Regions from separate parts of the Homo sapiens genome. Here region 1 is linked to region 2. A link means that fine-mapping ties the variant in region 2 to the plasma level of a protein whose gene starts in the linked region. Region 2 holds a variant in brackets. A gene starts in the other region. All regions are shown on their reverse strands.

Region 1 (2,893 bases), not on the chromosome of region 2:
GAGGCTTAAATAGACATAAATATTAAATAGAGATAAATACATGGGATGGGGAGGGCTTGGCTCAGGGCTGGGCAAGGTGGCGTAGAACGCGGTACGACACCTCCAGGAAGCTCTGCAGATGGGAGGCAACCAGGACCCCTCCTGCCCGGCGCTGGAAAGCAGAGGCGAAGGCCGGCATGGCACCCTGGGTGGGCTGCAGGGCAGGGGCCATTCCCAGTTCTTCCATCTGTGGGGGAAAGCTGTGATCAGTGGTTGGGCCCTTCTGAGTGGGCGTTATTACAAATGAGGAAATGCTGGGGGTGACAGCATGGACAGGGCCCATACACAGGCCTGGCTGTGGTGCCCAGAATGCCAGCACGACCTTGGCCACCCTGCCCAACAAGGCTCACCTGCTGCCAGATGGTGGTGGCAAAGTCGGCGACGTCCAGCTGCAGTGTGTCCAAGGTGGGACCCAACTCGGGGGAGATCCCTTCCAGGGCCTGCAGGAGCCCCTGGTAGAGGAAAAGGCCGCTATGGAGTTGGCTCAAGCAGCCTGCCTGTGAGACAGAGCGGAAGAGTTAGGGGGTGCTGCCTGAGATACGTCAGGCCCCCAGCTTGGAACCTGGAGACATGGGGGAGCCCATGGGTGTTCCTCCTCTCCTTCCCCCTCCTCATTAGCCTTATCCTTTCCTGACACTCACCAGCTGCAGGGCCTGGCTGGGGCAGCTGCTCAGGGGAGCCCAGGGGATGCCCAGAGAGTGTCCGAGCAGCACCAGCTCCTCGGGGTGGCACAGCTTGTAGGTGGCACACTGGGGATGGAAGGATGCTGAGTGAGACTCGCCATGGCCGGGTCGCCGCTCCTTCCCGGGTCCTCCCCGACTCTCTGGTCTTTCCCCTCCCTCCATGTCCTGCCAGGCTGTTCAGTTCCTCTCTGCCCTGCACCCCCACTCTCTGATCTCACAGGGGCCCTTGCCCTTTCTCCTGAATGTAATGCCTCCACTCCCATCCCAGCCAGCCCTCCCGAGCACTGTCCCCACCAAGGTCCTCCTCCCCAAGTCCCTTCCCAGCCTTCCCCAGCTCCACTGCTCCTAATATTCTCCCACGTCCCTTCCAGAGGATGTTGGCCCTGCAGTTCCATCCCCCTTAGCTCTCCCCACCGGGCTTCCCTCCACAGCCCTCTCACCCACCTCACTCACCAGCTTCTCCTGGAGCGCTGCGCCATCGCCCTGGATCTTCCTCACTTGCTCTAAGCACTTGAGCAGGAAGCTCTGGGGCAGGGAGCTGGCAGGGCCCAGGGGGGTGGCTTCCTGCACTGTCCAGAGTGCACTGTGCCACAGCAGCAGCTGCAGGGCTGGGGACAGAGCGGGCTCAGGAGACATGCTGTTCCCTACCACCTGAGGCCCTCTCGGGGACACTGGGTGCCTTTAATCCCCATTCCCAGAACGGGGATCCCCAGCCCCTCTGTCACACCAGCCTCCCTCCCATGCCAGGGCAGGCGGCTCTCCCATCCTGGGCCAAGACACTCACCCATCAGCTTCATGGGGCTCTGGGTGGCAGGTCCAGCCATGGGTCTGGGTGGGGCTGGGCTGCAGGCTCCGGGCTGTTTTGGGGCCCAGCTCTAGGGGGGCCTTTATACATAACCCCATGGAGGCCTGGGAGGAAATTACCTGGGGCCACGACTAAGGCTTAGTAATAACTTCCCAGGATTTATGCAAATTTGGTGTCCAAGACAATGCAGGGGGGTTGGAACAAAAAGCTGTTTGCGAAAGTTTTGTGAAATTGTGGAATCTCTGATCCTCCTTTGACGTCGCCTTGCCCCCCTCAAACTCCCTTCCTCCCGCTGCCCCACCCAGGCCTGAATGGCCCCAGAGTGTTTGAACAGAACAGCTGAACAAAGGCTGAGCCGCTGATAGACGCCTGGAAGCGGCAGCAGCCTGTGGGGAAGTGGCAGCTGAGTCGGGGTCTCCCTCTCTGCTCTGGCAGACTTGCGGGGGCAGTGTCCTTTGCCCCTCTCCTTTGGGATTCTCAAGCCTGTCCCCCAAGCCCCCAAATTCTAAGAGAGAAAAAAAGAAGCTGGTTGCTCCCATTCCTACCCCCAAACTCTCCGGAGGCTGCCTGTCTGGGAGACCTCCTGAGCCCCTACCTGAGATAAGGACATTGGGTCTTGGCTGCTGTGCCCACCCCACACTTGGATAGGCACCATCGAAAGTTCCAGGCTGTCCTGTCCCAAGTTGATTAGCTGGGAACTCCCCCAGAAACCCCCCCGCCCCCCATGACTCATTCGGCTAAAGCCCCTAGAATCCCGGTAGAGCCAGAGGAAACCGGATGTCTGTCCCGAATGAGGCAAGACCCTTCGAGGCGATTGGCTCACCTGACCTTCACCTCCTCGTGCACGACCCTGACAGTAGGGTCCCCAAGGGCTTTGGAACTGCGGGATTGGGACACGTGACTTCCCTGGTCATTCACCTTGAAGTGGACACGGGCTGGGGTGAGAGAGGGGAAACTGCCCCATCTTCTCATCTTAGAACCATGCAGCGTTAATGCTGGAAGGGACCTTGGAGTCGATTCCAACCCCGTGAACTGGGCCAGGGAAGGAAGTGCCTTGCCCAAGGTCATGGTAAGTGACAGAATTACAGCCTGGGCCTCTGGCTCAGACCTGAACGTTTTCTTTTTCTTTTCCAGATGGAGTCTTGCTCTGTCGCCCAGGCTGGAGTGCAGTGGCGCGATCTCGGCTCACTGCAAACTCTGCCTCTCGGGTTCACGCCATTCTCCTGCCTCAGCCTCCCGAGTAGCTGGAACTACAGGTGCCCGCCACCATGCCCGGCCAATTTTTTGTATTTTTAGTAGAGACGGGGTTTCACCGTGTTAGCCAGGATGGTCACGATCTCCTGACCTCGTGATCCACCCGCCTCGG
Region 2 (2,821 bases):
AGCCTGGCCAACATGGGGAAACCCCGTCTCTACTAAAAATACAAAAATTAGCCGAGTGAGCCGAGATCACGCCACTGCACTCCAGCCTGGGCCACAGAGTGAGACTCTGTCTCAAAAAAAAAAAAAAAAAAAAAAAAAGCACCAGTAATGGCCACTGCTAACACTTACATAGCATTTCCTGTAAGTTAGGCACTGTTCTGAGCACTTCATGTAGAGTGAGTCATTTAGCCCTTGTGATAACGCTAGGGGGTGGGATTTTACCATTATCCCCATTTTACAGATGAGGATGCTGAGGCATGGAGCAGTTAAATAACTTCAAGATCACAGGGCTAATGAATGGCAGGACCAGGATGAAAACTCAAACACTACACTGTCACTGACAAAGGGTCTAGAGTTGGGGGCCTTGGAAGTGGGCCACCACTGGGCTGCTGGGAGTCTGTGATGCTTGCCCCGGTGCATGCCTGCAACTTAGCTTCCCCCAGGGCTGCCCTTCCAGAGCCACTCTGCCTGGAGACAGGGGGACAGACAAGGTGACAACAGAGGAACCAAGCCAGGGCAAGGCAACAGGGCCAGCTGGTCCCAGAGGAAGCTTTCTGAGTGGTCCCACCCAAAGCCCTCACACTCTTCCCACCCACATGCAGACCCTCCAGCCATACCCCACAACCTCTCCTGCCTCATGAACCTCACAACCAGCAGCCTCATCTGCCAGTGGGAGCCAGGACCTGAGACCCACCTACCCACCAGCTTCACTCTGAAGAGTTTCAAGTGAGGAGGGGCCCCCACCTTGGTCCCCTCCCTTTGGATTCTGGGGTAGGGCATGGGTAGGATGCTGGGCATGCCTCTGGGAGGGAGAAGGGAGCCTCGCTTTCTTCCTCTGCTTGGCACCCAAGCCTGGACTATTGGCAGGAGCCGGGGCAACTGTCAGACCCAAGGGGACTCCATCCTGGACTGCGTGCCCAAGGACGGGCAGAGCCACTGCTGCATCCCACGCAAACACCTGCTGTTGTACCAGAATATGGGCATCTGGGTGCAGGCAGAGAATGCGCTGGGGACCAGCATGTCCCCACAACTGTGTCTTGATCCCATGGATGTTGGTGGGTGATGCAGGGGAGGGAGGGGATCCCCAAAATGGGCAGACACTGAGAGGAATGGAGAGGGAAACACAGAACTAGCGACAGACAAGAAGACACTGGAAGACCTAGAGACAGAGGCACAGAAGAGGGACAGAGACAAAGAAAGGTGCAGCTGGAGACAGAGAAATGGGGACACAGACCCAGAGACAGGAAGAGACACAGAGGCAAAGAGACACATTCAGTCATGCTTTCAGCGTGTTTCCTAAAGCACCCACTACATGTTAGGCACTGCTCTAGGTACTGGGGATACAAAGCATCAAAAATGCCCTCAGAATGTTAGATTCAAGTGGGGGGGAAAATAAGATAGAATTTCAGATAGCAATAAGCAGAAAGGAGAAATTAAAGGAGGAGAAGGGCATAGAGAGAGAGGGGGGAAGGGGAGCACTGGCTATTTTAATATGCTGGTCAAGAAAGGCCTCACTAAGAGGGTGACAATTGAGCAGATCCTTGAAGGAAATGAGGGAGCAAGCCGCTGGATATCTGGAGGGAAAACATTTCAAGCAGAAGTAACAACCAGTGCAAAGGCCCTGGGGCAAGAGCGGAAACAGAGACCTAGAGAGAAACAAAGACACATAGAGATCGAACCACAGAAACGTGTCATTGGCAACGTGGACAGATGGTGAACCACAGACAGGGAGACAAGAGGGAGCTAAGGCAGAGCCCTCTAGGGTGGGATAGGGAGACCTTCTGACAGCCCCACTCCTTGCAGTGAAACTGGAGCCCCCCATGCTGCGGACCATGGACCCCAGCCCTGAAGCGGCCCCTCCCCAGGCAGGCTGCCTACAGCTGTGCTGGGAGCCATGGCAGCCAGGCCTGCACATAAATCAGAAGTGTGAGCTGCGCCACAAGCCGCAGCGTGGAGAAGCCAGCTGGGCACTGGTGAGGCAGAGGGCAACCTGGAGAGCCTGAGGTGGTGGGGGCAGGGGGCAGGGTAAGTCGGGCTCGAGCTGGCCCTAGAATGGCCCAGCGATCCAAGGCTCAGAGTCCTGTCCACCCCTCACCAGGTGGGCCCCCTCCCCTTGGAGGCCCTTCAGTATGAGCTCTGCGGGCTCCTCCCAGCCACGGCCTACACCCTGCAGATACGCTGCATCCGCTGGCCCCTGCCTGGCCACTGGAGC[G/A]ACTGGAGCCCCAGCCTGGAGCTGAGAACTACCGAACGGGGTAAGGAGGTGATGAGAGGCTGGGAGCAGCCAACAGTATCCAGTCCAGGCCCCAGGCCCCTCCCCAACTGGCACCCCCTCTTCTTGTTCCATCCACAGCCCCCACTGTCAGACTGGACACATGGTGGCGGCAGAGGCAGCTGGACCCCAGGACAGTGCAGCTGTTCTGGAAGGTGACTCCCTCTGAAGGCCATCCCTCCACCTCGACACCTCCCGCAGTCCAAACAGATCCCTACAAACCGGGGCTTAGGACTCCAACAGGTCTGGGAGGCGTGGACGCATTTATATGTGATTTGCATGCACTTTGCATGTGCCTAGGGAGCTGAGTTAGCTTTTGGACAGACTGTAACGCACGTCACAGTGTGGTTCAGTGAATAGTTAAGAGCCTGCTGTGTCCACCAACTTGTTTCTTCCTGCCCTCCTTCCTAGAACCTAGCACAAGGGAACAGAGGGAAAAGGGGAGGGGGGTGAGAAGCCTGGACCCCAGCCTGGGGAGGCTCCGTTTGTATGATCCATCCACCCCACCTAGAG

Direction of the effects. Positions count from the first base shown, and alleles are read on the strand shown. Strength reflects both the effect of a copy and how common the allele is.
With allele G in place of A in region 2, the plasma level of the protein whose gene starts at base 1,581 in region 1 is lower (weak association).

Evidence for each region. PIP is the chance, under the fine-mapping model, that this variant and not a neighbour inherited with it causes the effect. Protein levels are from antibody-based Olink assays in UK Biobank. Linkage for the fine-mapping came from a reference panel and not from the study's own genotypes, which makes the PIPs less certain.
Region 1: CSF3 starts here. The variant in region 2 is fine-mapped to the plasma level of the CSF3 protein (UK Biobank, PIP above 0.99).

The regions. Positions count from the first base shown.
Region 1 is chr17:40,014,128-40,017,020 of GRCh38, reverse strand. CSF3 (colony stimulating factor 3) reads right to left here and starts at 1,581. Exons shown (of 5, transcript NM_172219.3): 1 at 1,507-1,581; 2 at 1,176-1,330; 3 at 681-788; 4 at 390-536; 5 at 1-226. The coding sequence starts at 1,546. The coding sequence ends at 62. PSMD3-AS1 (PSMD3 antisense RNA 1) reads left to right here and starts at 2,380. Exons shown (of 3, transcript NR_198981.1): 1 at 2,380-2,467; 2 at 2,662-2,783. RefSeq lists an enhancer at 1,172-1,671.
Region 2 is chr1:36,471,708-36,474,528 of GRCh38, reverse strand. It overlaps CSF3R (colony stimulating factor 3 receptor), which reads left to right. Exons shown (of 17, transcript NM_000760.4): 5 at 642-765; 6 at 907-1,094; 7 at 1,843-2,012; 8 at 2,138-2,291; 9 at 2,390-2,463. Among named protein-coding and RNA genes, the nearest start is that of MRPS15, 8.7 kb to the right of the region's middle. The variant G/A (reference allele first, on the strand shown) is at 2,252.